6 separate regions of the Homo sapiens genome follow, and all the other regions are linked to region 2. Evidence: fine-mapped expression QTL. A gene starts in region 2. Each other region holds a variant in brackets. All regions are shown on one strand. Distances are from middle to middle. Region 1 overlaps IGFBP7-AS1 (IGFBP7 antisense RNA 1). Region 2 holds the start of IGFBP7 (insulin like growth factor binding protein 7). Region 3 overlaps IGFBP7 (insulin like growth factor binding protein 7). Region 4 overlaps NOA1 (nitric oxide associated 1). Region 5 overlaps POLR2B (RNA polymerase II subunit B). Region 6 overlaps IGFBP7 (insulin like growth factor binding protein 7).

Region 1 (5,073 bases), 37 kb before region 2:
GAAAATACGTATTGATTGTTGGCTGTGAATTTCACCGTGGATAATGCTGAAGTCACCATCCTTCAAAGGTGTGTGAATTGAAGTTGCTGTTACCTAATCCTTGCAGGATGATTTGTAGCAAGAGACAAGACAAGGCAGGAGAAATGTCTACATGTAGGTCAGGCTGGACCTTCTCCAACCAATTTTCCATCCCAGATTATTTAATCTTCACTTCTAAGGTCCCAGTTTATTACATGCAAAGGACAGATTGATTGCCTGCATTTGACTAAGATGAAGACAGCTTTGTACTCTTGAATCTTTTGCAGAACTTAATTCTTCAAAATCACCCCATATTCCCAGGCCCAGCCACTACTGAACAACTTAAATATCTGCTGGCCTGACCTACCCCAGGCTGTATGTACTTTCCGTTTGCCTGTGAATGGGAACCAAATGGAAACCAGCACATACTCCTGGGTGTCATCAATTCTCCTCAAGCCAAACCAAACTTCATTCTAGCTCCTCAAATGCAGCAATAGTTCTTTGATATTTTTCACTTTCTGATGCTTAAAAGCATTAAGGACTACTAGCTAATTTGGCTACTAGAATACTTTTAAGTCCTGCAGAATGTGGTTGGTTAGTCATAGATGATTAACAGAGGAAAAGAACAGTGTCCAAGTGTCAGCTTCATGTTACTCTAAACTCCTAGCAACTAGGACATCAGAGTCTGGTGAGCTCAGAAATTCTAAGTGTGTGAAGCTTCTCACAGGGTAGAATTCAAAGGACTCCCAAAGTTTCCTTAATCCAGAACACTTCTCCAGCAACCTATTATGATACCTAAAATTTTACCATTAAAGATTTGTTTCAGGCCAGGCACAGTGGATTGTGCCTATAATCCCAGGACCTGGGAGGCTGAGGCAGGAGGAACACTTGAAGCCAGGAGTTTGAGACCAGGGTCAACATAGCAAGACCCTGTCTCTATAAAAATAAAAAGAAAAAAATTAGCTGGACATGATGATGCATGCCTGTAGTTCCAGCCACACAGGAGGATGAGGCAGGAGGATCGCTAGAGCCCAGGAGTTCGAGATCATAGCGAGGTATATTTGTGCCACTGTGCTCCAGCCTAGGTGACAAAGTGAGACCCTGTCTCCAAAAAAAAAAAAACATTGTTTCATTTGAGTTCAATCAAAGTGAGGTCTCTGAATGGCCCTTGTAAGAATCCCAGAAGCTAAGCTCTTAGAGGGCTAGCTATTATCTCCACATTAGCGGAGGTGTCTTCTAAGTTGACAGGCACTGAGCACAAGCCTTTATGAGAATATGAAACATCCAGATTGGAGAGAGACATGAAGAGCAGGAAATGAGTCACAGAAAAGAGGCAAAGAAGGCACTTAGGTACCACTTCCCAATTTAGTCCAGAATCTGTTCAAGGAAAACACCCATCCAATTTATGAGAGAAATTAGTCCCAGTGAAATGTCCAGAGAATAGAAGTGATAAAATTCCCCATGACATTCTTGGAACCTTTTTTTCTAGAGACAGAGTCTCACTCTTTTGCCCAGGCTGGAGTACAGTGGCTGAATCATAGCTCACTGCAGCCTTGAACTCCTGGGCTCAAGTTATCCTCCCCACCTCAGCTTCTCGAATAGCTGGGACTACACAAGTGCACCATCACACCGGCTAATTTTTTTATTTCTTGTAGAGACAGTCTCACTATGTTGCCCAGGCTGATCTCAAACTCCTGAGCTCAAGCGATCCTCCCACCTCAGCCTCCCAGGGTGCTGGGATTACAGGTGGGAGCCTCCACGCCCAGCCTCCTGGAACTTCAGTAAAACCTAAAGTAGGTTTTTATGCCTTTTCATTCCTGTAACTCACATCATTGGTTGCCACCAGGTGCCTAATCAGGGAAACTAGGACAAGTGGGTGGACACACTTGAGGCAAGCAGAAATTAAAGAGGAGAAATGTACCGTTTAACATAATCGAGTGTCATTAAAAGATTTTTAAATGCTTTCTAAAGTCAGCAAGACAAATCAGTCGACTTCACTTTCTTTTTTTAAAGTGTAAAAAATTGCCACTAGAGTGGGGAAAAAAAATCTCTTGGATGCATTAGTGCTTTATCATTGTCGTCAGCTCTTGCTTTGCCTAACTAATGACTCAATCATCTCTCTCCCTCTGATCCAATCATGTTTCTTCTACCCCAGAGTTGGAGGAGAGTCAATTTCCTCATACTCAGCCGGTACTTAGACCCTGGGCGTAATCCTGGCCTCTTTATCATCTCTTTTCAGGAAGGCTACTAACTGAAATTCTTCTTCTCTAAATGAATTCTATAATGACCCAGAGCCCATATTCACTAACTTTCTTTCCTGGCTTGTTTTATGTAACTATTATAAAGGTAATACTGAACTGCTGGCATCCCACCTACTTAGTGTGTATCTGTTTTGCTCCTTCCCATTTCTACTACTAATAGAAACAGTTTGTCTCTTGTGTTTTATGACACCAAACCCTTGAAATGATCTAATGTAACCTTCATCATTGGACCCACTGGCTTTGGTAAAAACCTGCTGGGGATAGATTCTCCAAATGCTCTTCTCTCCATCTTTGAATGTATCTCTTTATCCATTGCCCCTTCTTCAATCCTATCTCAGGAAAAATACTATACCCCTTGCTCTCTGAGACATAGTATTTCCACTTCCACTCTTCCTTGGCCTTGTCCATTTTGCCTCCTGCTGTATCTTGAAATACGAACTTTTTAA[C/A]CCTAAACCGCCACCCTATAAATGCTTCCTGTCCTCTGTGTTCTCACTCACAGCCTCTAAATATGCATCTGGGTCACCTAATTAAAACATCTCAACCCTCCCTCCATGTAGAAAGTGCAGACACTAATTCAATGGCTACTTTATATCCTTTAAACGATATATCCAGAGTGACAGGCACATAGCGGATGCTCACAATGTGGTCGTTCCTTTTCCCCAACTGTAGTGGATTTGTTTCTCAGCCTTCCAGCCATAGCTGAGGGAGGACAGCACAGTGGAGGGGAAACAGGCAGATCTTTAGAGTCATGCAGACAAAAGTGTCCTCCCCAGCTCCCCCACCTGCCGTCATATCTGTATAACAGTGTGGGTTGTTGACATCTCAGTCAGATTCTGCATAGTGAATTAATGTGGGGCTTTCCTTTCTCCTACCTTCAAGGGCAGGGACCATGATCTCAATTTATCTTTGCATCAATCTTCAGTTCCAAGAGACATGCCTGGCAAAAAGGAGCTATTCAGCACATATTAATGGAACCAACATGCAACAGAGATAACTGAAGATGATATTAAAAGTAATATCAGACACCATGGGGATAAGAAGGGGACGAGGGGAACTAGGTTTTCAGAAATGCCAAGAAATTCCTGGAAGTCAAGAGCAACTCTCCAGAAATGGACAAGAGAGAAAGGGTAAGGAAGGAGGTACAGTGATCACCAAAGAAAAAAGAGTAAGAAACTAAGGAATGCAAGACCAAGGGACTCTGATATTTGGTGGATTCTCTAGTCCTTTTTTAACAGGTACACTTCTATTAAAAATTGAAATGATTCTACAACATTTATATGAGGATTTTTAGTCATTAGATGCTTTTTATGTCCATTCTCTCTTATCAAAAAGGTGCAAGAATTTTCAACCTATTTCTGTTGGGTGCAGGGAGAAGAGGAGGAATAAATTGGAGGAGGGATTAATTATCTGAAAGAACATCTGGGAAACATAAGCAGGCATGGGATTCCAGAAACGATAAGAATCTCCCCTGAGGTCCAAACAGAAGGAAAGGAAGTTTCCTTTCAACCCTCTTGAAAGGACTTGAAGGGGGTTTTGCCCCTATTTTAGCCTTTGTTGTTTCAAAATAATGTAGGATTTTGTCTTCCATAGTTTTCATCATTTATTTATTTATTTTGGTGAAAGCATGTATAGAGAATTACAGAAGGGAATCCATGTATTATTTAGAACTAGCAGCTACACATAATCATTTAAACTAAAGATGGTTGATCAATAATTCTCTACACAGAAGAGAATTCTCTCTCACAGAGGAAACAAAAGGTTTTGATGTCTCAAGTCCTCTGAGATTGCACCTACAGCATTGGTCACAAGTTCCTACAGCCAAAATGCCTTTATCAGAAAGGAACATTCTAGAAGAGGCCAAGCTAATTATGACATTAGAGCCATTATCAAGAGAAGAAGCCAGTGGCTAGCAAGCTCTACGTGCTTGAAAAGACCATGATGTATTTTCTGTGTGTGTGCTCTCCTCAGAGGAATAAAAGACAATAAATGGACCAGGTATGGTGGCTCTCACCTGTAACCCCAGCACATTGGGGGGCCAAGGATGGAGGATCTCTTGAGCTCACAAATTCAAGAGCAACCTGGGAAATAAAGCGAAAACCCATCTCCACAAAAAAAAAAAAAAAAAAAAAAAAAAACACTAATTAGCCCATGTGGTGGTGCATGCCTATAGTTCCAGCTACTTGGGAGGCTGAGATGGGAGGACTGCTTAAACCCAGGAGGTCGAGGCTGCAGTGAGCCATGTTCTAAAAAAAAAAAAAAAAAAAAAAAAAAAAAAAAAAAAAAAAAAATTCTTGGCCTTGCAGGGTGGCTCATGCCTGTAATCCCAGCCTTTTGGAAGGGAGGCAGATGGATCACTTGAGCCCACAAGTTTGAAACCAGCCTGGGCAATATGGTAAAACCCCATCTCTACAAACAATACAAAAATTAGCCAGGTGCAGTGGCACACACCTGTAGTCCCAGCTACTCAGGAGGCTGAGGTGGGAGAATCACCTGAGTCCGGAGGCGGAGATTGCAGTGAGCCGAGATCGTGACACTGCTCTCCAGCCTGGGTAACAGAGTGAGACCCTATCTCAAAAAAATAAATAAACATATGCATACATACTATCTTTACCATGTTTTAAACCCTAGTAGAGTCTAAAGATGGAATTATGAATTTTTAATGTTTTCTTTTTTTGTAACCCAAATAAAACTGGGTATTTCATGATGAGTCACAATACAGTTTTGCATTCAAAAGAATCCAAAACCCAAAAGAAAACATTAAAAAGCAATGTACATTTTTATGGAATTCTTTTGA
Region 2 (5,073 bases):
CTCACCTGCCTGCCCCAACCCTCAATCTCTGTGTCCTGATGTGGCTTCTCAGGTGACCTACTTGCACTGGAATCCTTGTCTCAGAGAAAGCTTCTGGAGAATCTAAAACTATGACAGATCGTCATACTAGATCATGGAACCAATTTAGTGGCTCTTGACCAGTGAATTAATAAAAAGGAAATCAGGGCCGGGCATAGTGGCTCACACCTGTAATCCCAACACTTTCGGAGGCCGAGGCAGGTGGATCACTTGAGGTCAGGAGTTTGAGACCAGCCTGGGCAACATGGTGAAACCCTGTCTCTAGTAAAAATACAAAAATTAGCCGGGCATGTTGGTGCATGCCTGTAATACCAGCTACTCGGGAGGCTGAGGCAGAAGGATTGTTTGAAGCTGGGAGGCAGAGGTTGCAGTGAGCCAAAATCTCACCACTGCACTCCAGACTAGGCGACACAGGGAGACTTCATCTCAAAAAAATAAAAAAAAGAAAAAGAAAGAAAAGAAAAGAAAGAAAGAAAGAAATTAAATACAATAGGAAATAGAGTGCACTCTGCATTTGTTTCCTTTTCAAGAAAACAAATGGGTCATGTAAACTGCATCTCTTAGGATGGAACAAAGACAAAAATATTTAGGGAAACTCTGCTGTAAAGATTTTTCATTGTTTTTTAAACAACTGTCAGGTCAACATATGACCTTTGAGGGGAAAAAAAATGCTCCACTTGTCTATAATACACTAAGGAGAGGCCAAAAAGCAGTGCTAGGTTTTTCTGGATTGGAGGATGTTTCCCCACTCTCCACCCCCCGATTTTGTGGTCATTTAATTTTCAAAAAATTTGCAATAATTATCCTTGTAAGAGTCTGTTGAGAATGAGTTCTTTACACTGCTAATGGGATTATGAACTGAACTGCTGGCTTTCAGTCAGCAACCCTGTAAATCCCTGGATTTATGCTAAGAAAAAAGAACACAAAAGAACCACAATGTGACATGCAGAATAATGCACGCTGCAATGTTACACATTCAGTTAAAAAGTGAAAGCAACTTCCATGTCTGCATTGGAGAGGCCAGTGTTCCTGGGAAGAGAGGCTTTCAAGTTGAGTTTGCAGAGCACTTCGCAGAAAGACTGAGGAAGAGTCCACCGTTTATATCAAAAACCTCCTGGAATGCTGGTGAAGACTGGGGGCGCTTTAGGTGCCTCCGTGGCAGCTCCAACGAGGAAGGAGCTGGGACCCCTGCTCCTCTCAGCTGCGCTCTGTTCTCCCGAGAGGCTTGCTGGAGGGCGAGCAGTTCAGCAAGAACTCAAAACAAGGGCACAGCTCTCACACGGATTCCAGTACTCACTGAAAACGGCTCAGCACAAAAAAAGCACAGAGTCTTGTTGAATGCCACTGGGAGACAAAGCGGGGAGGGAGGTGCAGGCAGTTAAGAGGTTCCAGAAAGGGAAGTGGTTGGCAACGGTTTGTCCTTTTAGTGCTTGACACCCAAGACCACAGCAGGCCTGTGGCCAGCGGGGACACAGTCCACAAGTGGGGGTTTTTAACAGCTTGTTCTTAAGAGAGCTTCCCAAACCACAGAGTAATGAGCACTCAGGTGTCTCAGGCCCACGGAGGATTTAATAGATGAAACCCTGGATCGTCTCGAAGCCGTGGTTGTTAAGAAGTTTAAATATATTGACCGGAAACGGGGAGAAACCAGAGGGTGGAAGAGCCGCTCGCACTGCGGTGCGATCCCTGAGGGCTCGGGGCAGGGGACTGGGGACCGAGCAGGAGCTGGCGGGGTGAGCTCTGCGAAGCGGGCGTGAGACCGAGCGCCCATGGGCCGGTCACGCCGGGTGCCCGCTCACCCCCCGACGCCAGCAGGAGCGCGCGCGCAGGCCCCGCGGGGCCGGGAGGGCGGCACGGGCGGGGCCCCCGTGCTCTCACCGCCCCGGGGTGTGGTTCCCGCGGACAGGCCGGGCGGGGCGGCGGGTTTAAGGCGCCGGCCGGCCCGACACGGCTCACTCGCGCCCTTGCCGCTGCCACCGCACCCCGCCATGGAGCGGCCGTCGCTGCGCGCCCTGCTCCTCGGCGCCGCTGGGCTGCTGCTCCTGCTCCTGCCCCTCTCCTCTTCCTCCTCTTCGGACACCTGCGGCCCCTGCGAGCCGGCCTCCTGCCCGCCCCTGCCCCCGCTGGGCTGCCTGCTGGGCGAGACCCGCGACGCGTGCGGCTGCTGCCCTATGTGCGCCCGCGGCGAGGGCGAGCCGTGCGGGGGTGGCGGCGCCGGCAGGGGGTACTGCGCGCCGGGCATGGAGTGCGTGAAGAGCCGCAAGAGGCGGAAGGGTAAAGCCGGGGCAGCAGCCGGCGGTCCGGGTGTAAGCGGCGTGTGCGTGTGCAAGAGCCGCTACCCGGTGTGCGGCAGCGACGGCACCACCTACCCGAGCGGCTGCCAGCTGCGCGCCGCCAGCCAGAGGGCCGAGAGCCGCGGGGAGAAGGCCATCACCCAGGTCAGCAAGGGCACCTGCGAGCAAGGTGGGCACGAGCGCTTCCCTCTCCAACCCTGCGCCGCTCGGCCCAGCGAAGGGCACATCCGACGGGGCGTCCGCGGCGGCCTCGCCCCGCGCTGCTCACTGCGATTCCCCCGCGGGCATCCCAGGAGCCAGATGGGAGGGAAAGAGTTGGCAGCCGCGGAATGCCAGGAGCGGTGGGCGACGCCCCCCCTTCTCCTTTTTGGTGGTTTTATTTTGAGAGTTTGCTGCGTGCGTCCAGAAAGTGAGGGCCGGGTGTATATGTAGAAAAGATTTTCCGAGACCTCAGACTTCCCCATGCCCAAAGCGCACCCAACTCGTGCTAACATCTGTCCATTTCTCATCATTCTTGGCTTGGGGATGTAGAGAGAGGTGAAGTCAAGAGATGGGGGAAAGGAGTTTGACAATTAAATATAAAGTAAGGACTTCCAGACAGACTTTTTTTTTTAAAAGATAGGATCTTGCTCTGTCGCCCAGGGTGGAGGGCAGTGGCACGATCTTGGCCCACTGCAACCTCTGCCTCAAGCGATCCTCCTGCCTCAGCCTCCCAAGTAGCTGGGACTATAAGCCTGTGCCACCACGCCTGGCCAATTTTTGGTTTTTTGTTTTGTTTTGTTTTGTTTTATAGCGACGGAGTTTCACTATGTTGCCTAGGCTGGTCTCGAACTCCTGAGCTCAAGTAATCCCGGCCTGCTGGGATTACAGGCATAAACCACCGTGCACAGCCCTGATTTCTTAGTATTGAAGAAAATAGTCCACTTTCTAAAAATTATAGGTTCTCAAACAGTAATCTAACTAGCTAATTATTTGTGGGCAAAAATAAAATACAAACTCTTTGAAGACTGTTTTTGTGATGCACTTTGTTGTCAACCTTCTGACCATTTTGTTTTTCCTTCCTATTTCTTTGATTTGTATTGTTTTGCATAATTTGTCCCCAGGATACACTGTTCAGCAGAAATGTCTTTGAGATTATGTTTGATTGTTTATTTTATTCCAAACAAGTCCAAGCTTGCTGTAAATGAAATAAGGAAATAGGCCGGGTGGGTTGGCTCACGTCTGTAATCCCAGCACTTTGGGAGGCCAAGATGGGCAGATCACGAGGTCAGGAGTTCGAGATCAGCCTGACCAACACGGTGAAACCCCATCTCTAATAAAAAATATATATATATACATTAGCTGGGCATGGTGGTGCATGCCTGTAATCACAGCTACTCAGGAGGCTGAGGCAGGAGAATCGCTTGAATCTGGGAGGCGGAGGTTGCAGTGAGCCGAGATCACATGACAGCACTCCAGCCTGGGTGACAGACAGAGACCCCATCTCAAAAAAAAAAGAAAGAAAGAAGAAAATAAAGTCTGGACTTGCAAATACACGCACATACACACACACATAGAAATTTTAACTCTAATGCCTGAAATAACATTTTCCATTGGCAGTATTTTCAAGGGAAAGTCAGACATTCAATGTTGGCAGCTCCTGATCTTAGCCAAGGTAGAAAAGGGAGAGGAGGCAGTTCTGAGGTTACAGAAGCTGTTGCTTCTTTAACACAGTTCAGACTTTCTCCAGAATTTCCAAATTCTTTCTTTAGAGCTTTTCCCAGAAGTCCACAAACTAATAGGTTGTATGTCATCAATTTCAGAGTTCACTATTGAAAGCCTTAAATTGTGTAACTCACTAGTAACTATTTATAGTATCATCACCTTAAACTTAGAAAATTGCAACCCAAAATAATCTGCATATGTTTACAATAGAAACAGTTATTTGTTACTTTGGATCTCATTTGTCGGTCACATCATGAAAAGATAAATGTGCGTTATTTAAGAATTTATTCCAAATATTGAGATTTTCTTATAAACATTACAATGGGGAACTTTATAGTTTTTTCAAAATGGCAGATACTTGCCTTATCAGAGCAGAAGGTTAGCTTGGTGATTGTTCAAGTGTTGTCAATTTCTAGTTTATACTTAATATTCCTTTTTCTCACCTGCTACTTACATCACCAAACACTCACACAGTCTGATTATAAAATATTGAGACTGACAGTCATATAGAACCAGTTTCATAACCTCATTACCATGTACACCCAGCTCAGTACCTCTCCAGACTGCAAACCCTTTGAGGGTTCCGGCCCGGCTTTTCTTTATATTTGGGGAAATGTTAGAGAAAACAGCATCTAAAACTGGAAACCTTGACTTAAATTAGCCATTTCTTCTCATCCTAAATTGAGAGAGATGAGTTCTAAATGGCAGAGACCATTTATAGGAGAATGCCAAAGAGAGCAGAAGAGAATGGGAAGCCTTTCCCACAGCAGAAACTTTCCACAGCAGAGACAATAGACTGATCCCTATCACATCCCCTAAATATTTCTTCTGACACCTGGATGGGTTTTGACAATCATAGAAGCAAACTGGACAGAGTGCCATTTACTTCTGTGCCATTTCATACTGGGGCTTTGCACAGAATAGGAAATGCATTGTCTAGGTTCCTCTAGACCTCTAGGTTCCCTTCTATTCTCAGAAGAAACTTAAGTTATGCTTGAGTATAACTTGAGTAGGGGCCAGGTAGGGGCAGCATTGT
Region 3 (5,073 bases), 69 kb after region 2:
AGCCAGGTTAGGTTCTGGAGTCTCACACTGCCCCACATGAGGATCCCAGACTGCCAGCTCCATGACCCTCCTCTGCGGACGGTCCCAAGTCTTTCTGAAGGCCCCTGGTGATTGAACCCTGGCATTCAGAATTAGCAGAAGTGACATACTAATTACCAGTAACTAAAAAGTTGGTGTTCACATCTCTATTGCAGATGCCGGGAAGCCAGGCCGTCAGGGGACAGGCGCAGTCAGCAAGCACCCGCTCTCTCGGTATCTGTTGGCTTCCACAGTTTTGTGTTTCAGAGCCAAACCAGAAATCACCCAGGGGGTTACTTGCATCAGCTCTGGAAAATGTGTAAAGGATTGAAGTCCTGAGACTTTCCCATAATGTCTTATTTAGGCATCAGTCTCCCTCAGTTGATTAGAGCAGGAATCAGCAAATTTCTTTATAAAAGGCCAGTGACAGTGACTATTTTAGCCATACAGTCTCAGCCACAACTGCTCTAGCAGCCAGAGACCACAGGAAACAAATAAGTGTGGCTGTGTTCCAACAGAACTTTATTTTATGGACATTTCCTTTACAATTTTCACACGTCATGAAATATCCATCTTTTAATTTTTTTTCAACCATTTGAAACTGCAGGCCGGGCATAGTGGCTCACGCCTGTAATCCCAACACTTTGGGAGGCCAAGGTGGGGGGATCGCTTGAGCTCAGGGGTTCGAGACCAGCCTGGCCAACGTGGCAAAATGCTGTTTCTACTGAAAACACAAAAATTAGCTGGGCATGCACTTGTAGTCCTAGCTACTTGGGAGACTGAGTCATGGGAATTGCTTGAGCTTGAACCCGGGAGGCGGAGGTTGCCGTGAGCCAAGATCATGCCACTGCACTCCAGCCTGAGCAACAGAGTAAGGTTCTGTCTCAAAAAAATAAAATTTTTCTTAATTTAAAAAAACAAAAATCCAAACACCATTCTTAGCTCATAAGCCATGCAAAAACAGATGGCAGGCCAGATTTGGCCCACAGGCCATAGTTAGCTAACCCAGGACCAGAGAGTCATACCACTTTCATAGCAAAAAGGATACACATGGTTTGTGTTGACTCTGAGTAGGGAACTTCTCCAGAGGGTGCCATGATACAGAAGGTGGGGGGTGTGTTCCCTAATTGGGGGAATGGAGAAGCATCATTCTGGCCTCTCTCAGTGGCCCCATACCTGCTGACTCTATTTAGGCCGTGGCTTGAGGGTGCCCCCCACTTGCCAATGCCTCCTGCCAGGGACCTGGACACTGAGAACGCTGGGAAAGGGCCCTCTCCTTGGGGACCCTGGTCACACCCAATAGATCAGTCACTCTTCTTCCTTCTTACCAGCTGCCTCTCCTGAGCACACTGGAAGAAGGACCCCTGTACCACCTTCCTCGACACCCGGGCCTCTTCTGTTCAAAGGTGCCTCCTGGCCAGGCATGGTGGCTCACACCTGTAATCCCAGCAGTTGGGGAGGCTGAGGCAGGAGAATTACTTGAAGCCAGGAATTCGGGACCAGCCTGGGCAACATAGCAAGACCCCGTCTCTACAAAAATAAAAAATAAAAATTAACTGACATGGTGGTGCACGCCTATAGTCCCAGCTACTCGGGAGGCTGGGGTGGGAGGATCGCTGGAGACCAGGAGTTTGAGGCTGCAGTGAGCTATGATCAAGCCACTGCGCTCCAGCCTGGGTGGCAGAATGAGATTCTGTATCAAAAAAATAATAATAAAATTAAATTAAAAATAAAGATGTCCCTTCCAATCCCCTGACGCACACAGCACTCCACATGTTTCTTTTCTTCCCTGCCTCATCACCCTTTTCAACCTTAGATCCTAAGCTTCTTGAGGCAGAGACTTCCATCTTGTCTGGGTGCTTAGCACATTTTCAAATATTCTCTTAGATTTTTTTTCTTCATTACCCATGGAGCGGTTGCTTGTTGCCTTTCCAACCCAAAATAGAAATAGTGGTAAACAAAAGAAGAAAAACATTGAACATTTTGGAACTAAAATTTTATTACTACTGGAAAAGTCCCAGATAATAAAAAAACAGCTGGTAAATTAGCACTCATTTAAGCATGGTCTGGGGAAGAAGAAAATTTTAATAACACATTTTTCTTCCTAATTGTTTTTGTTTGTTTAGATTTATGCATTCCCAAAGTGGACCTTAAAATCATGTTGGTGGCAGGAGGAAGCCAGTGTGGTCTTTGAAATTTGCTTCAGATAATCCATCAAGGGGATGGCCTCATAAACAAAATTATTATTTTCTCCCTAAGATGCTGACTCATGTGAAGGACTGTTTAAAAGATGACTTTGGCTTTGTGCCCTCTCCTGCAGGTCCTTCCATAGTGACGCCCCCCAAGGACATCTGGAATGTCACTGGTGCCCAGGTGTACTTGAGCTGTGAGGTCATCGGAATCCCGACACCTGTCCTCATCTGGAACAAGGTC[T/A]GTGGCACAGACTTTAAGAGACATCCTAGGCTGACAAGCTTCTCTTGCACTGCACAAGGATGGTAAAACGTTAAATCCTCAGCCTGCTTTGTTGACTGCGGCTCCCGCAAGGTGAAGCCTTAGGGCAGTCATACAGGCCCCTCCCCTGGATTCATGGAACAAAAACCAGTCCCTGCCATGCTTTTGTTAGCAGCATCCTAGAATCTGAGAAACTGGAAGAACAATAATGCTGAACACCTGAACCCACCTTCAGGGTGTGTGTGCACCTGTGGTGTGTGTATGTGTGTGCATATGTGGGTGCGAGTGAAAGTGTGTGTGTCTGTGTTTGCGCCCTCAGTGGAGACAGTATAGCATAGGGGTTAAAAGCGTACGTTTCTCTCTTTCTGTCCCAAAATACCACCTCCAAGCCCCCACCAAGCTGTTTGTGATGGCATCAGTCTCCTCATTTAAGACTGAACATTTAGCTGATAATTTAGATCCTGTCTGCTTGGAGGCATTATTATTATTTTACTGGGAGGCTCGGCTAAGAAGGTAAAAGGACACAAAGCCCTGTAGCCTTCTCCTGGGAGCATGGATTATTTTTTCAGATTCCCTAAGTGCTGGGAGATGGATGAGTACATTTTAAGGGCACTTGGAAGTAGGATAGAAGGAATGAGGTGGGATCTATTCTCCTAAGTACCAAGGCTGTAGAACCATAAGTTAGGGACAGAGGAGACCACTCCAGAACAGAGCATTAAAAAGGAACAAGAGGAGGAATAGCAAAGAAAAAAATGTCTCCTTTCTGAATTTTGCTAAATGCTGGCCCCAGCCCCAAGTGGAAAAAGCATGATATTCTTTTAATAAATCAGCTTTGAAATGACTTCCCAAATGGAAAAAAAGAAAAAAAAAAGTGTGAGGCTGGGTGCAGTAGCACATGCCTGTAATCCCAGCACTTTGGGAGGCTGAGGCAGGAGGATCACTTGAGTCCTGGAGTTTGAGACCAGCCTGACCAACACAGTGAGACTTCCTTCTTACAAATAATTTTTTTAATTAGCTGGGCATGGTGAGGCATGCCTGTGGCCCCAGCTACTCAGGAGACTAAGGTGGAAGAACCCCTTGAGCCAGGAGATTGAGGCTGCAGTGAGCTGTGATTGCCCCACTGCACTCTAGCCTGTCTCAAAAAAAAAAAAAAAAAAAAGAGTGTGAATTCCTTAGCCAGGGTGGCTGAGTTCTCTGCAAGTCAGGGTTTCTCAGCCTCAGCACTATTGACATTTGGGGCCAGATAATTATTTGTTGTGCGGGCTGCCTGTGCTTTGGAAGATGTTTAGCAGTATCCCCAGCCTCTACCCACTATATAACAGTAGCATTCCCCCATCCCCCCTGTCGTGAGAATTAAAAGCATCTTCAGACATTGCCAAATGTCCCCTAAGGGTGTGGAGCTGGGGAATTGCCCTGGACTGAAAACCACTGCTGTTAGCCTCAACTCTGTTCTCTACCTTATAAAAGTAGCATGTAATTATCATAAAGATGAAATAAAGTAATGCAAGTAAAAATTACTTGATACATAGTTAGCACTCAGTAGACATTAGCTACTGTTCCTGGAAATTTTTCCCTTCAAGTGGCATTATCTTGTATAATTATCTTCATATTTGAAGGACAACATCATCTCAGCATGTATGGAGAAGGGAAAAGAAAACACTTATTTGCCATCAACTAACACCTCACAATTATACCATACACTTACGTTTTTGTCTTTTTTTTTTTTTTTTTTTTTTTGAGACATAGTTTCACTCTTATTGCCCAGGCTGGAGTGCAATGGCACCATCTCGGCTCACCGCAACCTCGCCTCCCGGGTTCAAGTGATTCTTCTGCCTCAGTCTCTCAAGTAGTTGGGATTACAGGCACCCGCCACCACGCCTGGCTAACTTTGTATTTTCAGTAGAGACAGGGTTTCTCCATGTTGGTCAGGCTGGTCTCGAACTCCCGACCTCAGGTGATACGCCCACCTTGCCCTCCCAAAGTGCTAGGATTACAGGTGTGAGCCACCGCGCCTGGTCGTTTTTGTCCTTTTTATACATTTTGAATTGCTGAGCCTCACAACTATCCTACGAAAAATAAAAATTAAAAAATTATCAAACTCATGCTACCAAAAAAGGAACTTAGTTTAAGTAAAAGGGCATAACCAGACATCCATTTTAAGCTGCCTTACTTCTCCAGCAAGCTCTAAGGTGGATGATAGTCTCCCTTGACTATTTTGTTTGCTCTCTGTGTGACCGGAGAAGCAACTTCTAGAACTCCAGGAGGACTGTGGCTCCCGCAGTCGGAGCTCTTTCTGTTGCAAGTTCTACCAGCCCATTTGAAACCAGCCTAGGCAAAACAAAAAGCGGGGCGGGATCCAGCCTCAAGGGCCCCTGCATCCAGGTACACACGCCATCAGAACTCTAACTCTTGACTCTTTGCTCTCAATATACTAGTCTCATTTTCTTCTGCTTCAGAAAGCTTCCTATGCAGTGGGAGATATCAACTCCACTCACATTTTTATTACAGCTTAAAGACCCCAGAGGAAAGAAAGGGCTTCCCTTCTCCCTGCTGCATTGTGAAAATCCCACGAAGGGCTCAAGCCCAGGTCGGGTCACCTGCTAA
Region 4 (5,073 bases), 140 kb after region 2:
TGGAAGGTTGAGGTGGCAGTGAGCCCTAATTGGGCCACTGCACTCCAATCCAGCCTGGACAACAGAGACCCAAAAAAACAGAAGTATCAGTCTTGTGACTTTAAGAAACTTCTGTGGCCAGGTGCAGTGGGTCACACCTGTAATCCGAGCACTTTGGGAGGCCAAGGTGGGCAGATCACCTGAGGTCAGGAGTTCCAGACCAGACCTGCCCACATGGTGAAACTCCCATGTCTACTAAAAATACAAAACTTAGCCGGGTTTGGTAGCTGGTGCCTGTAATCCCAGCTACTCAGGAGGCTGAGGGTGAAGAATCGCTTGAACCTGGGAGGCTGAGCCAAGATCACACCACTGCACTCCAGCCTGGGCAACAGAGCAAGACGCTGTCTCAAAAACAAGAAAGAAAGAAACAAACTTCTGTAATTAGAAAATGAGTCCTTCTATGGTTTAAATTTTTTTTTTTTTTTTTGAGACAGAGGCTCACTCTGTCGCCCAGGTTGGAGTGCAGTGGTGCGATCTCGCCTCACGGCAACCCTCACCTCCCAGGTTCAAGCGATTCTCCTGCCTCAGCCTCCCAAATAGCTGGACTACAAGTGTGCACCACCACACCCAGCTAATTTTTTGTATTTTTAGTAGAGACAGGGTTTCACCATGTTGGCAAGGCAGGTCTCGAACTCCTGACCTCAAGTGATCCACCCGCCTGGGCCTCCCAAAGTGCTGGGATTACAGGTGTGAGCCACTACGCTCAGCCAGGCTTAAATTTAAGTTGACAAAACTGACTGCCCCATTTGTTCCCTTGAAACCAAAGTTTCATTTAGTAAGCTGCTCTTCTCTGTCTTGCACTTTGAATTTTACAGAAAAATTACTTTTATACTGAATGGTAATGTGATAAAAATGGAAAGAAATCGGGCCTACAGATTTTGGATTCCAATTCTGGTTTCCCCTGTGAACTAATCTCTTAACCTATTTCCTCATTTGTAAAGTGGCAGTAATTTTATATTTTATTACAGTAACCAACACAGTGTAGATCCTCAAAAATGTTCATTTTCTTCCCCCTTATTCCCTTTTGTAAAGATGTATTTATTCTGTGTATTTCAGGTACTACATTAAACCTTCTGAAGTTTCCTATTTGCAACCCAACTCCTTACAGAATGTTTAAAAGGCATCAAAGACTTAAAAAAGATTCAACTCAAGCTGAAGAAGATCTTAGTGAGCAAGAACAAAATCAGCTTAATGTCCTCAAAAAGCATGGTTATGTCGTAGGTAAGCATCCTCTATGGGAAAACCCTCGTTGGTACTATGCTAAAATTCTTTGTTAAGCAACCTGAAATACAGCTGTCCGAGGCTAGCCAGTTTTTGTGGGGAGAGACTGCCTTCCTTATTCTGCAACAAAGAGGCCCTTTAGCGATAAGGCTACTGTTTGGAAACCCAGAGCAGTACAGGTAGTAAAAGTTTTTACTCCATGCAGCAGCTTTAGATTAGGTTGTCTGTCTTTCCTTGGTATATCTTTTCAGCCTTTCTTTAAAACAGTCTGATTTCCACACACCCTTGCCCCCGCCACTCCATGTACACAGCCAGCCACACGCTTGATTATTGCAAGAGTTGACTCCCACTGCTTTTTGGAAAAAAAAAAAAGCAAAAGTATCATTATGGTCTCACTTCCCTACACTGTAATCTTAGTAACTTGTTTGAGGGAAACATAAAAATTATGTCTGGAGTTAAAAGTATTAAAGGAGTGACTAATAACCTTACTATAACTTGTTCTAGGAAGAGTTGGAAGGACATTCTTGTATTCAGAAGAACAGAAGGATAACATTCCCTTTGAGTTTGATGCTGATTCACTTGCCTTTGACATGGAAAATGACCCTGTTATGGGTACACACAAATCCACCAAACAAGTAGAATTGACTGCACAAGATGTGAAAGATGCCCACTGGTTTTATGACACCCCTGGAATTACAAAAGAAAATTGTGTATGTATTTGGTTTCTTTTAGAAACATTTACTTTCTTTTTCTTTTTTAATGGGTTTATATTGCCTGCTGCCCAGATACAGCCAATTTATCAAGACAGGGGAATTGCAATAGAGAAAGAGTGTAATGCATGTAGAGCCAGCTAAATGGGAAACTGGAGTTTTATTACTAGTCATATCAGCCTCAGAAACATTTACTTTCAATTGCACAAGTACTGCTGTCTTAATTGGCAGAAAACAGGAAAAGAAGTATACTTCCATTTTAGACTCAGTTCTGATTCATTCATGAAAGCTGTTTAGGGGTGAATCTGTATGCCATCAAGTTCTGTGTTCCATTTGATAGACTTCATTGCTGACAACCAACTTATTTTATCATTGTGATTGTTACCTTGGTTAGGGAAACGTTTACAGAAGCCTAGGTTTTGAGGTTGGAAAAACACATAAATATCACTGGAGTCCAACTCCCTAGTCCCTGCTTGAATTACCTCTGTAACATATCCATCAAGGGGTCCTCCATCTTGAACTGAAAGGAGTGACTCACCAAAGCTGAAACTGTCATGTCACCTTCCAAGGTAACTCATTTGGGTCTTTGACCTTCTCTTTGTATTGAGTGTACTGAGCTGAATAGTCTCCCTGTAACATGTATCCATTGTTCCCCAAAGCCATCTGGGACTAAGGTAATACCTATTTCCCTTGCCAGACAAATATTTTAAAATGTAACGTCCCATCTCTTCTTCACCTATCCCTCCCTTTTCTTCTCTTTCATTACTTCATCCAGCAAACGTTGAGCATTCACTGTGCCCACAATCTGGATTATTTGTCTTCATTTCCTACAGCTGTGCTGTAGGAAACAGGCTATTCATTGGCCCAGGCCTCTTCAGAATGTTTTCTATGTTTGTTCTTAAAGTGTGACACTGAGAACTCAGTGCTCTCAGGTGAGCATGATTTAGAATAGCATTAACTCCGACCGGGCGCAGTGGCTCACGCCTGTAATCCCAGCACTTTGGGAGGCCCAGGCGGGCAGATCACAAGGTCAGGAGATCGAGACCATCTGGGCTAACACGGTGAAACCCTGTCTGTACTAAAAATACAAAAAATTAGCCAGGAGGTAGTGGGCACCTGTAGTCCCAGCTACTCGGGAGGCTGAGGCAGGAGAATGGTGTGAACC[C/T]GGGAGGCGGAGCTTGCAGTGAGCTGAGATCGTGCCACTGCACTCCAGTCTGGGTGACAGAGCAAGACTCTGTCTCAAAAAAAAAAAAAAAAGAATAGCATTAACTCCACCTGTCTTGTCCCTATGCCTCTCTTTTATCCAATTGCTCATGGACAACTTTGGGCCTCATAGGTAACTTTGACTTTGTCTTGTTAAATTCAGCCTATATCTTACTCTGTTAAATATTCATTCAATCTCATTACTTTTTATATTTGCAGTTTGGATCTTCATTCAGATCATTGATTGACTCAAATGTGCATCCAGGATACAGCCTCACAACAGATTCATTAATCATTTCCTTCGAATCTGGTTACTGACCAGTTTCCGATTTTCTAATTATCTCTGTATCTCCCTACAAAACCACATTGGTTTCTTAGGTACTTTTCTTGGCCTCATCAGGAACACTTATAGTTACATTCTCAGAATTGTATTCTATTTGGTGTCCCCTGTCATTGAATCATACACACCTTTTAAATTTTATTGCTCTCCTGGAATAATTGCTCATGCCATCTTTTCTTCCTTAGCAGTCCAAAAGTTCAGAGCTGCTTTCTAATAATATTCTGTCACTTTAGCTTAATGAACTAATTCTTCCCCCACCATACTTTTTTTTTTTTTTTTTTTTTTTTTTGAGATGGAGTCTGACTCTCTTGCCCAGGCTGGAGTGCAGTGGCGCAATGATCTTGGCTCACTGCAACCTCTGCCGCCTGGGTTCAAGCGATTGTCCTGCCTCAGCCTCTCGAGTAGCTGGTATTAGAGGCATGTACCACCACACCCAGCTACTTTTTGTATTTTTAATAGAGACAGGGTTTCGCCATGTTGGCCAGGCTGGTCTCAAACCCCTCACCTCAGGTAATCCACCCACTTCAGCCTCCCAAAGTGCTAGGATTGTGGATGGGAGCCACTACGCCCAGACTAATTCTTCCCTTTCAGATGCTATTAGATCAGGCATAGCAGTTACTTCAGTCATATATCCTCTATTAAATAGTTGTGTCAGAAAGGCAAGAATTTGCAAAATACTCTAGACAGCAGAATGAGAACCCCAAATTTTTAGATATAAACGTCTGTCAGCACTGGTAGTTTGCTTCTCTGTTAGTTTACAGATAAACTTATTTGATGTCTTAAACCAGGGTTTCCCAGACTGAACCAAGGATCTCTGTTGTGAAATGAAAGTATTAAGACTCAGGCTGTGCACAGTGCCTCACACCTGTAGTCCCAGCACTTTGGGAGGCCGAGGTGGGAGGATTGCTTGAGCCCAGGAGTTTGAGACCAGCCTGGGCAACATGCCAAAACTGTATCTCTACTAAAAATACAAAAAATTAGCTGGGCATGGTGGTACATGCCTGTAATCCCAGCTATTGAGGAGGCTGAGGCACAAGAATCACTTGATACACTTATTGGGAGGCAGAGGTTGCAGTGAGCCGAGATCATGCCACTGCAGCCCAGCCTGGGCAACAGAGTGAAACCCTGTCTCAACAAAAAAGAGAGACAAGGTTTCCCCTGTTGCCCAGGCTGGAATGCAGTGGCGTGATCAAGTAACTTCAAAGTCCTGGGCTCAACCAATTCTCCCACTTCAGCCTCCCAAGTAGCTAGGGCCACAGGTACATACCACCATGCCCAACTAATTGTTTAGTTTTTGTAGAGACAGGACCTCGCTATGTTGCCCAGTCTGGTCTAGGCTGGAGTGCAGTGGTGGAATCTTGGCCCACTGTAACTTCTGCCTCCCTGGCTCAAGCAATCCTCCACCTCAGCCTCCAGGGTAGCTGGGAACTACAGACACACGCCACCCCAGCTAATTTTTGTATTTTTCATAGAGGTGAGGTTTTGCCGTGTTGCCCAGACTGGTCTCAAACTCCTGAGCTCAGCTGGGCACAATGGTGCATACCTGTAATCCCAGCACTT
Region 5 (5,073 bases), 76 kb after region 2:
TCAAAGTACACATATCATACATACTAGTGATTGTATTGCTATAAGATAGATTCCCCAACAGTTACCTAAGTCAAAATATTTGTTTCAGTGTTAACAGACATTGTCAGATTACTTTCTAAATAGATTGTAGTAATTCACACTCCCACCAGAAATGGAGAAGTGCCATTTCTCTGCATCTTTACTAGCACTGAATATTAACCTCTCTTTTTTAGTTTTAATTCCAATTTTAACTAGAAAACACATATTTATTGGCCAGGCACAGTGGCTCATGCCTGTAATCCCAGCACTTTGGGAGGCCAAGGCAAGTGGATCACTTAAGGTCAGGAGTTCGAGACCACCCTGGCCAATATGGCAAAACCCCGTCTCTACTAAAACTATAAAAATTAGCCAGGCGTGGTGGCACATGCCTGTAATCCCAGCTACTCGGGAAGCTGAGGCAGGAGAATCACTGGAATCCCGGAGGCGGAGGCAGAGGTTGCAGTGAGCTGAGATCGCACCACTGCACTCCACCCTGGGTGACAGAGCGAGACTCTGTCTCAAAAAAAAAAGAAAACACATACTTAACAACACTTAGAATCCCCTTACACGAATAAGGGAGAGTTTGACATATAAAAATTTGTCATATGAAAATTCTTGGCACTTTTTTCTATGTTTTCTACATGATGTATAACCTTTTATAATTACGTAACATTAATTAAAATACGCCATGCCAACACTTGTGAAAAGAAGGGAAAAATAAAGTATATCTATATTGTGATTTATGTTAAATATTATATTTAACAAGATACATTTCCCTTTCCATAGTGGATCAGGTTAATTAGCATAAAATGCTGTTACTAAGAGCTATGGGATTTGAGGCTTAGTTGCTGAGATTCAGTATTTCAGTGCTGCAGTGTTTATTTTCTTGCTTTGGTCACACATAAAACTCATATGATTCTGAAATTCAGTAAATAAAGGTCAGAGTCATATTACTTGAGACCTTGGATCAAATTAATACTTCTACCAAAATATTCTTACAACCCATTTTTAAGTAACTATTTCAAAAGCTGTATTAGCATAAACCGTTTCTGCCAGCTACTTGGGAAACTAAGGGAAAAGGTACCTATTGAGTATGTTTGTCTTCACAGCATTTATGAGAAAGACATTAAGTTACGTGGTTTTCTCTCACTAATAGTGGCAATGTGGGAAAATTCCAGAAAAAAAATGCAAAAAGCCAGGCTTTCCAAATCATGCAAGATATTTTTTCTAGAGCAGGAATTGGCCTAGATCACATGTGGTTTGCTGAATCCCAGTCCTGGCATCATAAAGCTGAGAAAATACAGTGTAGGTTTGAAGCCGACACAACAGCAGAGTACCAAAAAACACATGGTAGGAGTGGGATCCACATGGGAAAAGCAACACTGAGATGGAAGTTAATAAAGTGTATATATTTATTTATATATTTATTATATTTATACATACGGTGTCTATATATACACACTATTATCTGGTCTTTATTAAGATTTGCTTTATTATAGAAGAAAATGAAAAGGAAACTAGCTATTTGAGGTTGTAAATCCTTTCTAATTACAAAGGTAATATCAATAAATGTCAGGTTGGCTCTTAAAGGAGATCTGGGATGGAATGAACAAACAATTCGTATATCCTTTTTTTTTTAAAACTCACCATTATCACAAGGCTTAAAATATTTGTACTCTGTAACTCAGCTGCTAAATGTATATGTATCGAGGAGCTACAAGTGAATTTCATTCTTTTGTATATTTTCCAGAGTTTATATAATAAAACATTTTGCCTTTTAAAATGAGGGCAAAAAGGATACTATTCAGTATTGGCCTTGCACCAAAGAAACTGAGTTTCTTCTGAATCTTGACATGACATACACAGAAACAGTCAGCAAGTTTTGTCATAAAAGAACAATGACAGCACATGTATTTGACAGCTGTTTTTTTTTTTTTTTTTTT[G/TTTG]AGATGGAGTCTCACTCTGTTGCCCAGGCTGCAGTGCAGTGGCGCGATCTCAGCTCACTGCAACCTCCGCCTCCAGGTTCAAGCAATTCTCCCACCTTAGCCTCCAGAGTAGCTGGGACTACGGGTGCTCGCCAACACAATCGGCTAATTTTTGTGTTTTTACTAGAGACAGGGTTTTGTCATGTTGGTCAGTCTGGTCTCGAACTCCTTTGATAGGTGTTTTTTATCTTAGGTGTTCAGTAAATCATTTGATTAATTCTTAGCCCTCAGAATAAAGTAATGGTATTGGCTTTGGTCTCAGCCTATTTTCCATTGATGAAGCTGTTGCAGGAAGAGCCCCAAGGTCCCAAGCATCAAACCTAGTGCTGGGTGACAGTTCATCAGTTGAACATGGCATGACAGGCAAAAGGCCTGGAACTGAGAAGCAGAATTTCCAAGAGCATGAGTGAATGAATGATGGTGACCAGTGGCAGGAAATTATGACCATGTATATTCCCCAGGCATGCAGAAAAATACATTAGTTTAAAACATGTACGCTTAGCAGGAAACTGGCAGGAAGAAATAAAAGAGGATCTATATTTTAAAAGTATTTAGGAAAGGGAAATAGTTCAGTGAAATGCTGGGTTTACTCTGTTAGAAAGTCTGACATACACTATGTGCAATTGTAGGGATGTGGCCACTTCCAAGTAGATGATCTGGTGTACAAAACTCAGTATTACTCTCCTTTTGTTTTTGCAGGTAAAAAGGGGTCACTATGGAGTTCAAAGGACAGAACTCCTGCCTGGTGACCGGGACAACCTGGCCATTCAGACCCGGGGTGGCCCAGAAAAGCATGAAGTAACTGGCTGGGTGCTGGTGAGTACCAGTACCAAGAGCTGGCAAGAGTTTCATTCTTAGCATTAGACATAAGCAGACCTGGCAAAGGTGCCTGATGTACCGCCAGCCTAAAGGTGCTTGCTCTTCCACATCTGTTTGGAATAGCCTTACCATGGAGTCGCTGCTCCTCTTTCAGAGAAACTAAAGGAAAAGTGCTTTATTGCATGTTTTGAAAACAACCAATGAATTAACAAGAACTAGTATTTTCCTAAGAGTTCAAAGCAAAATCCTCACACGGAGCTGCGTGGCCCAAGCATTGTTTTAACTGATTATCGATTAATAAATACCTTATTTTACTTGACCCTGGATATTCATGGAGAATACTTTGATCATATACCCTTATCAAGGTTGCCCTTAAACCGATAATGTGTACCTATCCAGTTTTTAACCTATGCAGTATGATCAAAAGTTGTCCATGACATTTCCTCATATGAATCCTCAGCAAACCAAATATGGTAGTTATCGAAGTCTCCTATCACAGGACTTGCACTGCTTCTAGCAGTACCTTTGCTATGAATCCCCTGGTCATCTTAGGAAATTTATGAAATAATGACCTCACTGGAACCACTGACAAAAGAGAAGACCACCACAGAGGAATACTAGATCTTTTTTCTTTCACAGGTATCTCCTCTAAGTAAGGAAGATGCTGGAGAATATGAGTGCCATGCATCCAATTCCCAAGGACAGGCTTCAGCATCAGCAAAAATTACAGTGGTTGATGCCTTACATGAAATACCAGTGAAAAAAGGTACACAATAAATCTCACAGCCATTTAAAAATGACTAGTACATTTGCTTTAAAAAGAACAGAACTAAGTATGAAAGTATCAGACGTAGCTATTGATGAAATTCTGTAGTTAGCAACCCATAAGGGCATTAAGTATGCCATTAAAATGTACAGCATGAGACTCCAAAAGATTATCTGGATGGGTGACTGAACATCGTTATTATGACTTAGATGCTTTTACCTTATCTAACATGTAAGAGTCAAAATCAAACTTGCCTGGAATGGCTTCTATTTCCCATAGCTTTCTACCTATCTACTTGGCATTTTCCCTTTGTGTTGTGACTATTAAATTCCTATTTAAAAGAAAATGATTGTGGGCAATTCTCGCCCTTCACTTTTGCTTTTAAAAGAAAAGGCCACAAAGGAGAGTATATTGGCAAATACCCAGTTCTGTTCTGCCTCCCCTTCCTTCACTGCCAAAAAGCTTCCTCTGAAGAACCCATCCTGTGTCATAGCAGTGCTACTTTACATTTATATAGTTCTATGAAACTGATGTCTGAATTGGCTTTCCCTTAGACAAAAGAACAAAATTTACCGTCACCATGTGTCAAACCATTCCACTGTGCAGATCACTCAGCTGTGATATGAAAAGAAATATTAAGTAAAGAAGTATTTGGTCAGATTCTCTTCAGCCATAATGTGTAATGTCAGGCAATGAAACAGAACAGTAGCTAAGAGTCAAGCCATGCGTTTGAGTCTCAGCTCTGCTACTAATTATTCCTCCACTTTACCTTTTGAAGGAGATCCGGACTACAAAGGAAAGGTCTTTAACCTCTCTGAATCTCATTGTGAAATGTGCTCTTCCAGTTCTATAATAAGATGTACCTTTGATGCATCAACCAATACAGCAAAATTGCCTTTCATAGCTAAAATCATGTAACTTGAGTTCCACAGAGCACTCCAGCATATCATTTATACAATTACTCATATATCCTTTATCCCCATATTTTAACATCTTCATTTATTTGGAAACACTCAACTACCTGCCAATTCAAAAGTCAACCACATCCCCATATGTAACTAATTTTTATCTTTTTTTTTTTTTAAACAGGTGAAGGTGCCGAGCTATAAACCTCCAGAATATTATTAGTCTGCATGGTTAAAAGTAGTCATGGATAACTACATTACCTGTTCTTGCCTAATAAGTTTCTTTTAATCCAATCCACTAACACTTTAGTTATATTCACTGGTTTTACACAGAGAAATACAAAATAAAGATCACACATCAAGACTATCTACAAAAATTTATTATATATTTACAGAAGAAAAGCATGCATATCATTAAACAAATAAAATACTTTTTATCACAACACAGTACATATTTGTCATTTTTAAAAAGCCACACAATAGAAACAAGACACCAAGATATTTAATTATCTTGTTGACTCCTGTAAAATAGCTAAACACTCATCATTCGCGGTGCAATACTCATAGACATAAGTTCCTGAAA
Region 6 (5,073 bases), 61 kb after region 2:
GGGATTTTTGCCAAGTTGTCTGAACTCTCTATCTCCATATGTGGTATCTGAGGTCCTTCTTAAACCCTGATTTTCCCCTTATTTGGTATTAATGCACACACTATTTTCAGGACCCAGCATCAAGAGTCAAGGTGAGTGTTGTTTGCAAATCTATCATAACTCGGAGAAGTCCCCATACTCAAATGTCTTAGCCATGTTAGCATGTACTCAGCAAGAGGCCATGAACAGTGGCTCATGCCTGTAACCCCAGCACTTTGAGAGGCCGAGGAGGGAGGATCACTTGAAGCCAAGGGTTCGAGACCAGCCTGGGCAACAAAGCAAGACCCTGTCTCTACAAAAAAAAAAAAAAAATTCTTTTTTAATTAGCCGGGCATGGTTGCACTTGCCTGTAGTCCTAGCTCCTTGGGAGGCTGAGGCAGAAGGACCCATGAGACTAGGAGTTTGGAGTCTGCAGTGAGCTATGATCGTAGCACCATTGCACTCCTGCCTGAGTGACAGAGCAAGACTCTGTCTATAAAAACTTTTGAAAAGCCAGGTGCAGTGGCTTATGCCTTTAATCCTAGCTCTTTGGGAGGCTGAGGCAGGTGGATCACCTGAGGTCAGGAGTTCGAGACCAGCCTGGCCAACATGGTGAAACCCCATCTCTACTAAAAATACAAAAATCAGCCGGGCATGGTGATGGCTGCCTGTAATCCCAGCTACTCAGGAGGATGAGGCAGGAGAATCGCTTGAACCCACAGGGCAGAGGTTGCAGTGAGCCGAGATTGCACAACTTCACTCCTGCCTGAGCGAAAGAGCGAAACTCTGTCTCAAAAAAAAAAAAAAAAACTTAAATAAAAATAAAATAAATGTTCAGTGAGAACCATAATGTGAATAGTATAACCCAGCATGATTTTGGTGTGAGGATAATTGATAATCATTTTCTTCCAGCAGACCTACCCATCTCGGTGGGATTTGCTTCAAGTGATGTATATTCAAATTAATTTGCATCTCCTGGTCATATACTAATTGGTTGGTGAGTGGTTAGTAGCCAAGAAACACTGCTTATGGCAAGAGAAAGTCAAGTGAAAGATTAAAGAAAATCATGATTAATAATCTGCCAGCTGATAAATAAGATAGTTATAACACCACTTTGGTGAGGTGTACGCTTTTGGCCATGTGTACACTGGTGCATTTTCAAGACAGTGGCTATCTTTTCACTTCTGTTTGGCTAATCATGTTATGTTGTTCTGAAGTTACTGCTGCCCTATACCCACTTCACACAGCCTGAGCTCTGTCTCCTTCCAATGAACATGAAGATCTTTTGATTCCGTAGTTCCTGGTTCTGTTCTGATTCCGACAGGATGCTGGCATCCTCAATTAGGCCAGCTAAGGAAAGCATTAGAAAACAGTGATGCACTACACTCTGTGGAACTTACCGAAACCAACAGGATTTTAGAGAAGAAATAAGGGGGAGCCTGAAGCTGTCAGGCCGCAAAAAATGTCAAAGAGAAATGAAACTTCAGTCTTAGAATGTCAAATAAAGTGTGATAAGAAATAAGAGGAGGGAAGATATTCCAAGTAGGTAAGGGCATCAGCATAAGCAAAGGTGCTGGAAGGGGTAATGAACATGTAATGGTGGGTGAGCAGGACTGCTGGGAGCAGACAGTGAGTTTGGGTAGAAATGACATAGAAGAGTGAATTGGTAAAAATGGAAGAGATGATGGGCAAATGAGAAAGCAACGAAGCAAAAAATATATAGTACAATATGATATTGGAGGACAGAAATGATTATTGGGGGTAATTTGACTTTTGACCATTTCCCAGGCTTAATTCAAGTATATTTAGCTTTCAAACATGACTTCTCCTAATATCTTCTACACAGCTCTTTCAGATGAAAAAAAAATTGGCTAACTGGGTAAAGGGTGATACCTTTATAAGCTCTATTTTTTTAATCCCTGAGGAAGTGAACCATGTTATGAGTCACATACATCGTGTTTAGGTAGGTGAGGAAATGCATTGAACTGATTTGCAGAGAATGAGAGCTCCAGACCCAGACAGTGAGACTTCAGAACTTCATAAATGTCAAAGCATCTTTGACATCTATGTCCCAGCTCTAGGACACATTCATGATAGGTTCACTTACTTCCAAACCCAAAGAGGATATTCTTAGACACTTCCTAGTTTCTTCATCTTGTAAAAGTGGTTAAGTGGCTTGTCCAAGGTCTTTTGGCTATAAATTGTAGACAAGGATTCAGAGCCAAGTGTTCTGTCCCCAAGAATGCTTTTGTCTCTTTTTTTTAAATAGTAACATCATGAGGACATCTCAGGTCATGGCTGGGGAGTGCTTTGTGCTCTGTAAGGGACTAGGAAATTGTTCACA[T/A]ACTTCTTCAATATTGTTCCTGCTGTGCTTTTTATAGGATAACACATTTTAACTCTGTCCTCACTACCAAGACTTTATATAAAATCAGCTGGAATGAATTGCTGGTCAAATTCAAAATTAATTTCATGTCAAAGTCTTTTCCTCATGATATTTGTGTGTTTTGTGAGAACTGCCTTTCTTAAATTCTTCTGAACCAACTCATAATACTCCAAATTTAAATCCATCCATCTATAAAACTACCTTTTCTGTATCAGTAGTACTTTTTCAGAACATACCTATTTCTAGATTATAATCAAATATTCTTAAAATAATCTGGTAGTCTGTGAGTCCTTTGTCTAGAACTTAATTAAAAGTGGCAAAGGAGGCCGGGTGCTGTTGCTCACTCCTGTAATCCCAGTACTTTGGGAGGCCGAGGCAGGTGGATCACGAGGTCAGGAGATCGAGACCATCCTGGGTAACACGGTCACCCCGTCTCTACTAAAAATACAAAAAGTTAGCCGGGAGTGGTGGTGGATGCCTGTAGTCCCAGCTACTTGGGAGGCTGAGGCAGGAGAATGGCGTGAGCCCAGGATGTGGAGCTTGCAGTGAGCCGAGATGGCACCACTGCACTCCACACTGGGCGACAGAGCAAGACTCCGTCTCAAAAAAAAAAAGGGGGGCGGAGGGGGGCAAAGGAGAAGCCAGGCATGGTGACTTACACCTATAATCCCAGCACTTTGAGAGGCCGAGGCAGGCAGGTTGCCTGAGCTCAGGAGTTCAAGACCAGCCTGGCCAACATGGCAAGACCCCATATCTAAAAAAATACAAAATTTAGCCAGGCGTGGTGGCACACACCTGCAGTCCTAGCTATTTGGGAAGCTGAGGTGGGAGGATTGTTTGGGCCCAGGAGATTGAGGCTGCAGTGAGCCATGTTCGCACCACTGTGCTCCAGCCTGAGTGACAGAGAAGACCCAGTCTCTAAAAAGAAAAAATGTAGCAAAGGAGGAGTATGCAGACTTAGGTGGAGATTCTGCAGGAGACTTCTAAGTACTTTTAAGGTGATATGATTCATTAAATTGAATTTTAATTTACTTTATTTTTAATGTTTATTTTTTATTTGCATAAACTTATGGAGTACAAATGTAATTTTGTTCCAAGGATGTATTTCATAGTAGTGAATTTTTGTTTTCTTCCAAGGTTAGAACTTTCTTCTTCCTTGCTATAACTTCCTTCAGGATCTGGCTATCTTTCTTCATTTTTTCTTTCTTCTCCTTCTCCTTCACCTCCTCTGTATTAGACTGTTCTTATGCTGCTAATAAATACATACCCGAGACTGAGTAACTTATAAGAAAAAGATGGTTAATGGACTCACAGCTCCATGAGGCTGGGGAGGCCTCACAATCATGGTGGAAGGCGAAGGAGGAGCAAAGTCACATCTTACATGGCAGCAGGCAGGACAGCATGTGCAGGGGAACTGCCCTTTATGAAACCATCAGATCTCATGAGACTTAGTCGCTATTACGAGAACAGCACAGGAAAAACCTGTCCCCATGATTCAATTACCTTCCACCGCGTACCCCCCAACCCATGACACATGGGAATTATGGGAGCTACAATTTGAGATTTGGGTGGGGACACAGTCAAACCATATCATCCTCTCTCCCTTCTTTCCCTTCAAGGAATGTTCAAAAAGAAGAGACCCTCTAAGGAATGATCAAAAGGAAGAGACACTCTAAAGTTACTGAGCGAGAGTTATAAAAAATAGGGAAGGCAAGAAAATGAATTTAGAGGGTTGAGAAGGATCTAAAGAGATTGAATGAGAATTAATTGAGTGTGTAAGGTAAAAGGAAAGTGGGGTAGCCTGGTTTGGGTACAGTCATCTGGATAGAAAAATGTAGGTAGTCCACCTTGGGTGGACATCTCTTTACATCAGGCAGCACTGCAGATGACTTGGTTGCTTTCTGGAGTTGCCGAGGGTGGGTACAAGGCAGAGGGAGGCAGCGCACAGTCATTTATTCTATGAACAGGATGTTTGCTAGACAGATGTTTGAGCAGTCTGGAGCTCTTAATGGAACAAGGGCAAGGATAAATAAATAATTGGACCTATCCTGATGTTTGTCCCTATACATTTAAGAATTCTGTGACCTGTTTTAAACGGAATCCAAACACTGAGTATGAGTTAGATGATAATGTTGTTATTACCCTTGACCTGGCCTTGAGGACTGATTTTGAGCTTTCTGTATGAGAAAATTAGCTCAGAGTGACCTAAAAATTTCTTTATTCTTAAAAACAGAAATAAATTCTCGATCTGCCTTGCCCTTCTTGGAAGAAAGGTAGAGTGGAAAGAGTTAGAAGTTATTTGGTACAGAGTCATTGAGTACAGTGCTCTCCTGAGGTAGAACAGAACTGTCAGGGATTGAATTGCAGGACAGACCTGCAATTCAAGATGATTGTTGGCAGTGAAATTGCTGATCAATGGAATGTGTGGGATGATAGTTCTTGAGAGTCGGGGAGGAGAGTGCAGCATTGTTGGGGCTGGCATTGTATCCACCGAAAACATTTTCAGCATCTCTTCTCTTCTATACAAGACTTGTCCTCTTGGTGTCCCTGTGGGTCACCATTAAGTCGCTTGCTTATTCTTTCTCACCATGTATCTTCATTTACCTTTCTCTAAAACTTCTGTAATTTGCTTTTATCAAGAGATTTTGGTCGCGTGCAGTGGCTCACACCTG

The links. PIP is the estimated chance that this variant, and not a neighbour inherited with it, causes the effect.
Region 1: its variant is fine-mapped to the expression of IGFBP7 in whole blood (TOPMed, PIP 0.93).
Region 3: its variant is fine-mapped to the expression of IGFBP7 in whole blood (INTERVAL, PIP 0.98).
Region 4: its variant is fine-mapped to the expression of IGFBP7 in whole blood (INTERVAL, PIP 0.91).
Region 5: its variant is fine-mapped to the expression of IGFBP7 in monocytes after LPS (Fairfax 2014, PIP 0.95).
Region 6: its variant is fine-mapped to the expression of IGFBP7 in left ventricle (GTEx, PIP above 0.99).

The regions. Positions count from the first base shown.
Region 1 is chr4:57,144,629-57,149,701 of GRCh38, reverse strand. The region is part of intron 1 of IGFBP7-AS1 (IGFBP7 antisense RNA 1); the gene reads right to left. Among named protein-coding and RNA genes, the nearest start is that of IGFBP7, 37 kb to the right of the region's middle. The variant C/A (reference allele first, on the strand shown) is at 2,726.
Region 2 is chr4:57,107,306-57,112,378 of GRCh38, reverse strand. It overlaps IGFBP7 (insulin like growth factor binding protein 7), which reads left to right and starts at 1,994. Exons shown (of 5, transcript NM_001553.3): 1 at 1,994-2,502. The coding sequence starts at 2,028. IGFBP7-AS1 (IGFBP7 antisense RNA 1) reads right to left here and starts at 2,617. Exons shown (of 5, transcript NR_034081.1): 1 at 2,409-2,617. RefSeq lists a silencer at 1,856-1,925.
Region 3 is chr4:57,038,199-57,043,271 of GRCh38, reverse strand. It overlaps IGFBP7 (insulin like growth factor binding protein 7), which reads left to right. Exons shown (of 5, transcript NM_001553.3): 2 at 2,339-2,448. Among named protein-coding and RNA genes, the nearest start is that of POLR2B, 62 kb to the right of the region's middle. The variant T/A (reference allele first, on the strand shown) is at 2,452.
Region 4 is chr4:56,970,045-56,975,117 of GRCh38, reverse strand. NOA1 (nitric oxide associated 1) reads left to right here. Exons shown (of 7, transcript NM_032313.4): 2 at 1,096-1,260; 3 at 1,765-1,970. Among named protein-coding and RNA genes, the nearest start is that of NOA1, 5.0 kb to the left of the region's middle. The variant C/T (reference allele first, on the strand shown) is at 3,136.
Region 5 is chr4:57,030,938-57,036,010 of GRCh38, reverse strand. It overlaps POLR2B (RNA polymerase II subunit B), which reads right to left. Exons shown (of 25, transcript NM_000938.3): 25 at 4,853-5,073. The coding sequence ends at 5,023. It overlaps IGFBP7 (insulin like growth factor binding protein 7), which reads left to right. Exons shown (of 5, transcript NM_001553.3): 3 at 2,700-2,816; 4 at 3,459-3,585; 5 at 4,675-5,073. The coding sequence ends at 4,694. Among named protein-coding and RNA genes, the nearest start is that of POLR2B, 55 kb to the right of the region's middle. The variant G/TTTG (reference allele first, on the strand shown) is at 1,962.
Region 6 is chr4:57,046,001-57,051,073 of GRCh38, reverse strand. All of the region lies in intron 1 of IGFBP7 (insulin like growth factor binding protein 7), which reads left to right. Among named protein-coding and RNA genes, the nearest start is that of IGFBP7-AS1, 61 kb to the left of the region's middle. The variant T/A (reference allele first, on the strand shown) is at 2,363.